2 separate regions of the Homo sapiens genome follow, and region 2 is reported to be linked to region 1. Evidence: microRNA targets listed by miRTarBase, many of them from high-throughput screens and not tested one by one. Region 1 holds a microRNA gene; the other region holds the end of a gene's coding sequence.
What was found. Region 1 holds the annotated microRNA hsa-miR-597-5p (UGUGUCACUCGAUGACCACUGU, at 2,670-2,691, opposite strand). A microRNA usually pairs through its seed, bases 2 to 8, with sites in the 3' UTR of a target mRNA and lowers its output. Matches are read on the target gene's strand: a 7mer-m8 pairs with bases 2 to 8, a 7mer-A1 pairs with bases 2 to 7 and ends in A, and an 8mer does both.

Region 1 (4,132 bases):
GAAAGCACTGGAAAATAAAAACAGTTGAGAGAAAATGAATCAGTCAATTGATTTACTCTTATAAGATATAAATTTACATGCTTTGTGGTAATAAGTATCAATGCCATTTACTGACTTAGCAGAAAAGTTAACTGTCTTGTATAAACATGTATTCAAATATAACACAAGGCATTATTATATAAAGAACACCGACACAGTAAGGCACACTACCACTAATATCAACTCTCATGCAACTTGTAATTTTTATTGATGCTTCTTAAATAAATATGTATTTTTTTCTCCATTTGGAAAAACTGAGGTTCTTTTTATACAAAAAAGGCTCAAAGACACACACAGAGCAGATTGAGCTCTCTAGGGGAAAAAAGTAAATAAGTATGAAGGAATAATGATCAATAAATAACTACATAAGTAAATAACTATGTAATTTCACAGCTACCTCAGATTATTATTTCATCCTCAGCCTAGTCAATTAATCTGTGTTTATTTAACACAGCACTGAGCCAGTCAAATATATAGATTATTCCTAAGGCTGTGAAATGTAGGAGTGACATGCAGCCCTTATTCTGACTGGCTTAGTACAGGAACTGTGGGAAGCAAGGAATTTACTAATTTTTAATATCTATACATCTATAGATATGGATATGTATTTTTTGGTAGAAATGGGGTCTCGCTATGTTGCCTAGGCCGGTCTTGAACTCTTGGGCTTGAAAGATCCTCCCGCCTCAGCCTCCCAAAGTGCTGGGATTATAGGCATGAGCCATTGCACCCGGCCATGAAGCAAGTTATTTTATAATAACAGTATTACCTTGCATTTTTATAATGCCTTACATTAGTTAATGCAATTTCCACATGCATGGTCTCATTTAATCATTACAACAAGCTGGAAAGGAGGTCTTGGAATCCAACTTTTACTACTGAGAAAACCAAAGATGAGAAAAAGTTAGACACTTGCTGAAGACTACTGGGTTATAAAACAGAAGAGGAAAGACTAGATCCCAGATATTCAGACCCTAAGTTCAGGTTTTTCCATTAAACCACAGGTGCCTGCAGAGTTTGCTAGACTAAAACACAAGAGCCATTTTCCTTCCAAGCTGAAAATGGGAAAGAGATAATATTAGGAAGAAGAAATGATTTAAGTAGAGATCACTGGGTAACACTATACCTACAGTTGCTCTATAAATTGCTTGATTTTCAGAATAGAAGCTGTATTCCAGATGATATGCCACAGAAAATCTACTCCACAAAATGATATGTGGCCAGGCTAGTTCAAGCATCATCAAATTCATGGGACGAATACAACATAATCAGTGTTTTTCTATCCTAATAGAAATGTAGACTGGAGTCCTATGATTTCATTAAAATATCCAGCCAAGGCAGGATAGAATGAATAAAAAGGAACTTTTGAAAGATACACAGATTTATCAATCTACAAATAATAGAACACAGTTGTATCTACTCTTAAGGGGAGACAAAGTAGCTTTTTAAACTTTTTATATTGTGTTAATATTAGTACTCCTTAAATATATAAATGTATGTATTTATTACTCCTTAAATATAAGGATATACATGTATATCCTTAAATATATAAGTATATATATTTAAGGAGTACTAATAAATACTTCTTAATTTAATTCATTATATTTTAAATAAATATTTATTAAATATTTATTTATAAATAATTATATAGAGATAGGGTCTCACTATGTCGCCCAGGCTGGTCTCAAACTCCTGGCCTTAAACCATGTTGCTGTCTCAGCCTCCCAACGTGCTGAGATTGCAGAAGTGAGCCACCATGCCTAGCCTTACTTTAAGTCTATTAATTGAGATTAAGAGAAATACTACTTAATATGGTTACTGATTGGTTACTAATAATAGATTATAGGTTTTACAAGTGGCATAAAATAAAATTATTTTGCGGAGCAGAGATCGTGAACAGGGAAAATACCAACTGAGAGTCACTGTATGTCATGCGAGATTGCTGAGGGAAGTGGGTTGCCCATGTTAAAAAACAAAAAAAAGGTATTATCACACTCATGTATCTGACCAAAAAAAAAAAAAGGTAATTAAAAAAAGGTCTAGAAATCACCAGAGTCAAAGTTTGCCAAAAAAAAGTAACAGTCATCAACTCACGGATGCCTGATTTTTAAATTTACAAGTTTAATACATGAAAAAAATTTTTGAGTGACTCAATCCACCCTCACAATGAGGTAAAAATACCTGCTATAAACACATTATGTAGCCCATTTGCATTCTTCCATACAAGGATGAGATGAACCAGGTTGATCAAAACCTCTATCAAATGCCCTTTACAAGGCCTGGAGAATTTTTTGATCATTCTCACCTCAGTAAGTTACCTTCATTTACAAAGAGCTAAGTAGTAGGGATTTAACAAACATAAAAAGAGGATACCATAAAAAGAGATAGTGAAAAAAAGTGTTCATTATTTTTTCTTACTTGGAGTTAGAAAAGGAGAAGGGGAGTTATGGGTGATGGTGAATAAAGTTTATGAAAATGAAAGAGTGGACTTCCGGTCAGGAGACCGATTGCATTACACCTCTCTTCAGGTGACAGCAAGTCAGCCTCAAGGGAACGTGAAGTTAGACAAGGTCGACCAGTACTCTACATTACGCTTGAGCCACAAGAGAACCACTGTACATTTTACTGTCTTCACAGTGGTCATCGAGTGACACACACGTAGAGTAAGTAACATCTTAACTGATGGGGATCAAAAGGTAAAATACTTAGTTTATAAATTAACTTTCCTTTATCCTCTGTGACAGCTATAAAGACTGTGCAAGGTGAAGACTAATGCAGTAGAACACATCTTAACGCTATCCCATGAGAAGAATGAGGATCAAAAGGTAAAATACTTTATAAATTAATTTTTCTTTTCCTTATCCTCCGTGACTGCTATAAAGACTGTGAAAGGTGAAGGCTAATGGAGTAGAACTTCCTTACATCCACAATGTATGGGATCTACTGTAGTCTACACAGTTGACAGTGTAACATAAGCCTTACTAGATCAGTTCATTATTATAATTCTATGGCCACCATCTGTCCCTACTCATAGTAAGTTTACAGAGACGATAAAAGATCTAATTTCAGTTCTACCGATCCCATTGGCTTTATAAACCCTTAACTGAAGCTTAGCAAAAGGATTAGTAGAAAACCATATGAAGAGAACAATTATGCTAAGAAGTGCTGAAAATTTGTCTCCAAATGATATACATGTGTAAGTTATAACTTAAGGGTCAAGAATTACATGTAGGCCGGGCGTGGTGGCTCACGCCTGTAATCCCAGCACTTCGGGAGGCCGAGGCAGGCGGATCACGAGGTCAGGAGATAGAGATCATCTCGGCTGACACGGTGAAACCCCGTCTCTACTAAAAATACAAAAAAAATTAGCTGGGCGTGGTGGCAGGCGCCTGTAGTTCCAGCTACTCGGGAGGCTGAGGCAGGAGAATGGCGTGAACCCGGGAGGCGGAGCTTGCAGTGAGCTGAGATAGCGCCACTGCAGTCCGACCTGTTCTCAAAAAAAAAAAAAAAAAAAACAACAAGAATTACATATAAATGTATATGTAGTATGTTAGCAGCAAATATTTAGCATGCTAAGTCTTTGGTAGAAGTATTTGTTGCTCAGAGAAATTGAGAACCTTATGTGAAGGAAGGTTAAAATTTCTACGAATTTTAATAAAAGACTACTCATCTTTAGAAAGGTAACTTTAAATACTGTAGTTTCAAGAGGATTTCAGTACTAACACTCATTAAATATGATACTTTCAATTAATTTATATCATACTTGGAAGCATAGTTTTCTTTCAAAAAACCGGATTGTTGCTTTCCTTAAAAGTATCCTCACTCAGATTTGTCCTCTCTCTGAAATACAGGTCTTTGTAAAATGGGTCTGAGAGACGACAGTCTCATTACAAAGGGCCAGGGAGAAGGCGGTAGGAGGAAGAATATGGTAATCAAGGTGGTTGGGTTGGTTTGGTTTTTATTTATAGTTTGTCAGGCTTTTGCAAATCTAGAAACCACCTTCTATCAAGAGTGATTCCAACTGTGAGAACACCTGGTACGTATGAACTGGCATCTGTGGGTTTTTACAGTCAAGAAGGGATTAAGTGGATGAACT
Region 2 (4,000 bases), not on the chromosome of region 1:
AACCCTCACTGAATTATTTAAACAGAAGGACCCTAGAATGTCTTCCTGATAAAATGGCACTTTAAACACATGACATGGGCTTGCTTAGGCACAGCCAGCTCATGTAACAAGCAAAAATCAATACTTATTCCCCAGGGTTTCTCTAATGTTATCATCTCCCAACTCACATCCCCGCCCCCACTGCCCCCTGACCTATCCCACCCAGGACTTCATATTGCTACTTTAAAGTGAAAACAGATGATGTCTGGGAAAAGTTCATATATTTTGGTGACTAATTTCTAGACAATACCAAGAGGCAAATGGTGGCTTTAATGACATTCTTGCAGGAAAGTTGAACTTTCCTTGAAAAATAGAAAAAAGCTAGGAAACTTTATTTTCATCCTTACTCAGTCTCTGAGCTTACAGATCAAAACATATCTTCTGTTCTCAGGTGAGCACTCTGCACAAGGAAAAACCAAGAACTGACAGCTTGAGGAATTCTCTCCACACCTAGGCAATAATTACGTAAGTTTCCCAATTTCATTCACGGAGACAATCATTAATATCTGTTTTGTTAGCCTGGTGCAGCTTAGATTGTTTTTAAAGAATTTCAAAAGCTGGAAAGCTAATGGTTTGTGTCAATGCAATGATCATTGTCTATTTGTCTAAAAACAAACTCTAACAAAAATTGCCAAAAAATGAATGACCTGGTGGTTGTAGACGATTTGTCCAATTCTCTTGCCTGTCTAAGGAATGACACAATTTGCTCTTTCTGCCTGTTGTTAATGTTTCCTTGTAAATTCAGTCTGCCTACCTAGGTCAGTAAGCACACACTAACTGTGGCACTTAGACAGGCTTCTGTTGCTGACAAAGACTGGCAGAATCCAAGTGACGGTGCTTGCAAATTTGCAGTTTATTGCAAGAAAATGATAAAATATAGAAACTGCATTAAAGTAAAGATGTGTATCACAGCCGTAGGCTGGCTCAGGGAAATGGGTTCAGAGAAGCTAGTTGAAGGGTCTAATTGCCCTCTCTCTATAAGGACCATACCAGAATATGGTCCTTATATTTTTCTCTCTGGGTCCAGAAACCATGGATGTGTGGAAAAAAACACCTCAAACAAGATGATCTAAAATTCAGTTTCAGCCAGGTTTCCTTTTACTCAGCTGGTCATGTAGACATAGTCTTGCTGTGTAACCAGCCAAGCAACAGAGCCCTCCAGGTATCTTGACAAAACCAGATACAAATGATCAATCTTACTACAATAATTGTGAATCAATAAAAAATGGAAATTTCTCAAAAGTATGTTCCATGTCATGACCAGGAGTAAGCTCAAGGCAGGTACGTTTCTTATTTTAGTAAACAGCTCAGGCCAACGTTAAACCTGCTTTGGAATTAAGTCTCCCAGTTGGTATGGGATTGACTTTTACTTTCCTAGAACTAAGTAAGGAAATGCTCTTCTGACTTTAATTTAATTGTTACAAGAAGTATTGATTAAGTGCTGTCACTTAGTTTTTGAGGTTTTATAAAACTTGCAGAAGAATCTACCTTTCGGCAACTAACAATAAAAAATAAAATAAAATAAAATAAATACGTGTCCAGAATTGGCCTGACCACAATGATAGTCACTCTAGGTAAAGTGTCCACGATGAGAAATATTGTTATTCATGGCCTATGTCTAATCCCTAATTAACTAACACTGTTCTGTTACAGACACTCAGAAATTTCTTGTAGAATAAATGGTACCTGCTGTGCTTGTCTGACCAGTAGCAGAAGACAGAGACAGAGGAGTGCCATCCAAACATATGTGTCAGTATCAGAATTTTATCCCTCTCTAGCCAGTAATTAGGGATGGATTAGGAATCTTGGAATTTGTGCACCTCCAGCATGCTGCAGTGCCCTATGGAAAAGAGGCAAGACTGCCTTCCCCTGCCCTCCTGCTCTTCACCAGTCATGAGCCCCTAGCTTGGGCCTGCAATGCAACCACCTTTCCCCAGCTGATTATTCTAATTGGCAGTGGCTCTGAGTGGCATGCCAAGGTCCCTGCCCCTGCTGCCACCAAGCTGGGGAGAGAGAAAAAATCCTAAGCTTGTCTCAGGCCTGCAGTGCACAGTCTGGGAGTGCTAAGCTGAGATCTATGACCAGCACTTGAGTGGGAGAGGATCACACACTCTCAGAGCACTGAGGGGAAGCATGGCTACAAATGTGAGGAAACACAGAGGGGCTGCATGGCTGGGTAAGAGCCTATCTACCAGTCATTATGTTTAAGCACTATCTATTAAATTGCAAACCAAACTTCAACACCAAAAATACTTTGGTAATATACTCCTCTGTAAAACCAAGGACAAGAACTCAACTGCAAATAAAGACCCTGCACAAAGCCTCAGCCCTCTGAACACATACAGAAATGAAACCGACTGACTATACTCAAATTACACTGCAATTAAAGAAACATCAGTCCACATAGGTGAGAAAGAACCAGCTCAAGAACTCCTGAAACTCTAAAAGCCAGATTGCCTCCTTACCTCCAAATGACTGAACTAGCTGCTCTGCAGTGATTCTTAACCAGAATAAAATGGATGAAATTACAGAAATAGAATTCAGAATCTGGATGGCAATGAAGATCACTGAAAATCAGAAGATTGAAACCCATTCCGAGGAATCTGAGGAATTCAACAAAACCATACAAGGAATGAAATATGAAATAGCCATTTTAAGAAAGAACAAAACTGATCTGACAGAGCTGAAAAACTCACCACAAGAATTTCATAACACATTGGAAGTATTAACAGCAGAGTAGACCAAGTCAAGTAAAGAATCTCAGAACTCAAAGACTAGTTCTTCACATTAACAGTCAGATAAAAATAAAGAAAATAGAATTTTCAAAAATGAACAAATCTCCAAGAAACATGAGATTATGTAAAAAGACAAAACTTATGACCCATTGGCATCCCTGAAAGACAGGGAAAGAAAGCAAGCAATTTGGAAAACATGTTTGAGGATATTGTCCATGAAAATGTCCCCAACTTAGCTAGAGAGGTTGATATTCAAATTCAGGAAATTCAGAGAACCCCAGCAAGATACTATATAATACAACCATCCCCAAGACACATAGTCATCAGATCCTCCAAGGTCAATGTGAAAAGAAAACTATTAAAGGTAGCTAGGGAGAATGAGCAGGTCAACCTACAAAGGGAACCACAGCAGTGGATAACACTGGACCTTTCAGCCAAAACTCTACAAGCCAGAAGAGACTGGGGGCCTATATTCAGCATCCTTAAAGAAAAGAAATTCCAACAAAGAATTTCATATCCAGCCAAACTAGACCTCATAAGCAAAGGAGAAATAAAATCCTTTTCAGACAAGCAAATACTAAGGGAATTCATTACCACCAGACCTGCTTTTCAAGAGGTTCATAGGGAGTGCTGAATATGGAAATGAAAGACCATTACTGGCTACTACAAAAACACACTAAAGTTCATACACCATTGATGCTATAAAGCAAAAACACAATCATGTCTACGTAACGCCAGGTAACAACAGAATGACAGGATCAAATCCACACATATTAATATTAACCTTGAATGGTAGTGGGCTAAACACTCCACTTAAAAGGCATAAAGTGGCAAATTGATTAAAGAAGAAAGACCCAAGTGTATGCTGTCTTTAAGAGACCAATCTCACATTCAAGGACACCTATAGGCTCAGAGTAAAGGGATGGAGAAAGATTTATCAAGCAAATAGAAAACAAACAAAAAAGAGCAGGGGTTGCTATTCTTATTTCAGACAAAACAGACTTTAAACCAAAAATGATCAAAAAGGACAAAGAAAGGAAGTGATAAAGGGTTCAACTCAACAAGAAGACTTAACTATCCTAAATATATGCACCCAATACTACAGCACCTGGATTTATAAAACAAATTCTTTTAGTCTTACAAAGAGACATAGGTAACCACACAATAATAGTAGATTTCAACACCCCACTGATGATATTGGAGAGATCATCAAGACAGATTACTAA

Region 2: the mRNA of EMCN is a reported target of hsa-miR-597-5p. The part of its 3' UTR that is shown has no 7-base or 8-base seed match.

Annotation. Positions count from the first base shown.
Region 1 is chr8:9,740,246-9,744,377 of GRCh38, reverse strand. It overlaps MIR597 (microRNA 597), which reads right to left and starts at 2,706; the gene lies at 2,610-2,706. All of the region lies in intron 17 of TNKS (tankyrase), which reads right to left.
Region 2 is chr4:100,406,786-100,410,785 of GRCh38, reverse strand. It overlaps EMCN (endomucin), which reads left to right. Exons shown (of 12, transcript NM_016242.4): 11 at 431-504. The coding sequence ends at 465. Among named protein-coding and RNA genes, the nearest start is that of SNORA101A, 14 kb to the right of the region's middle.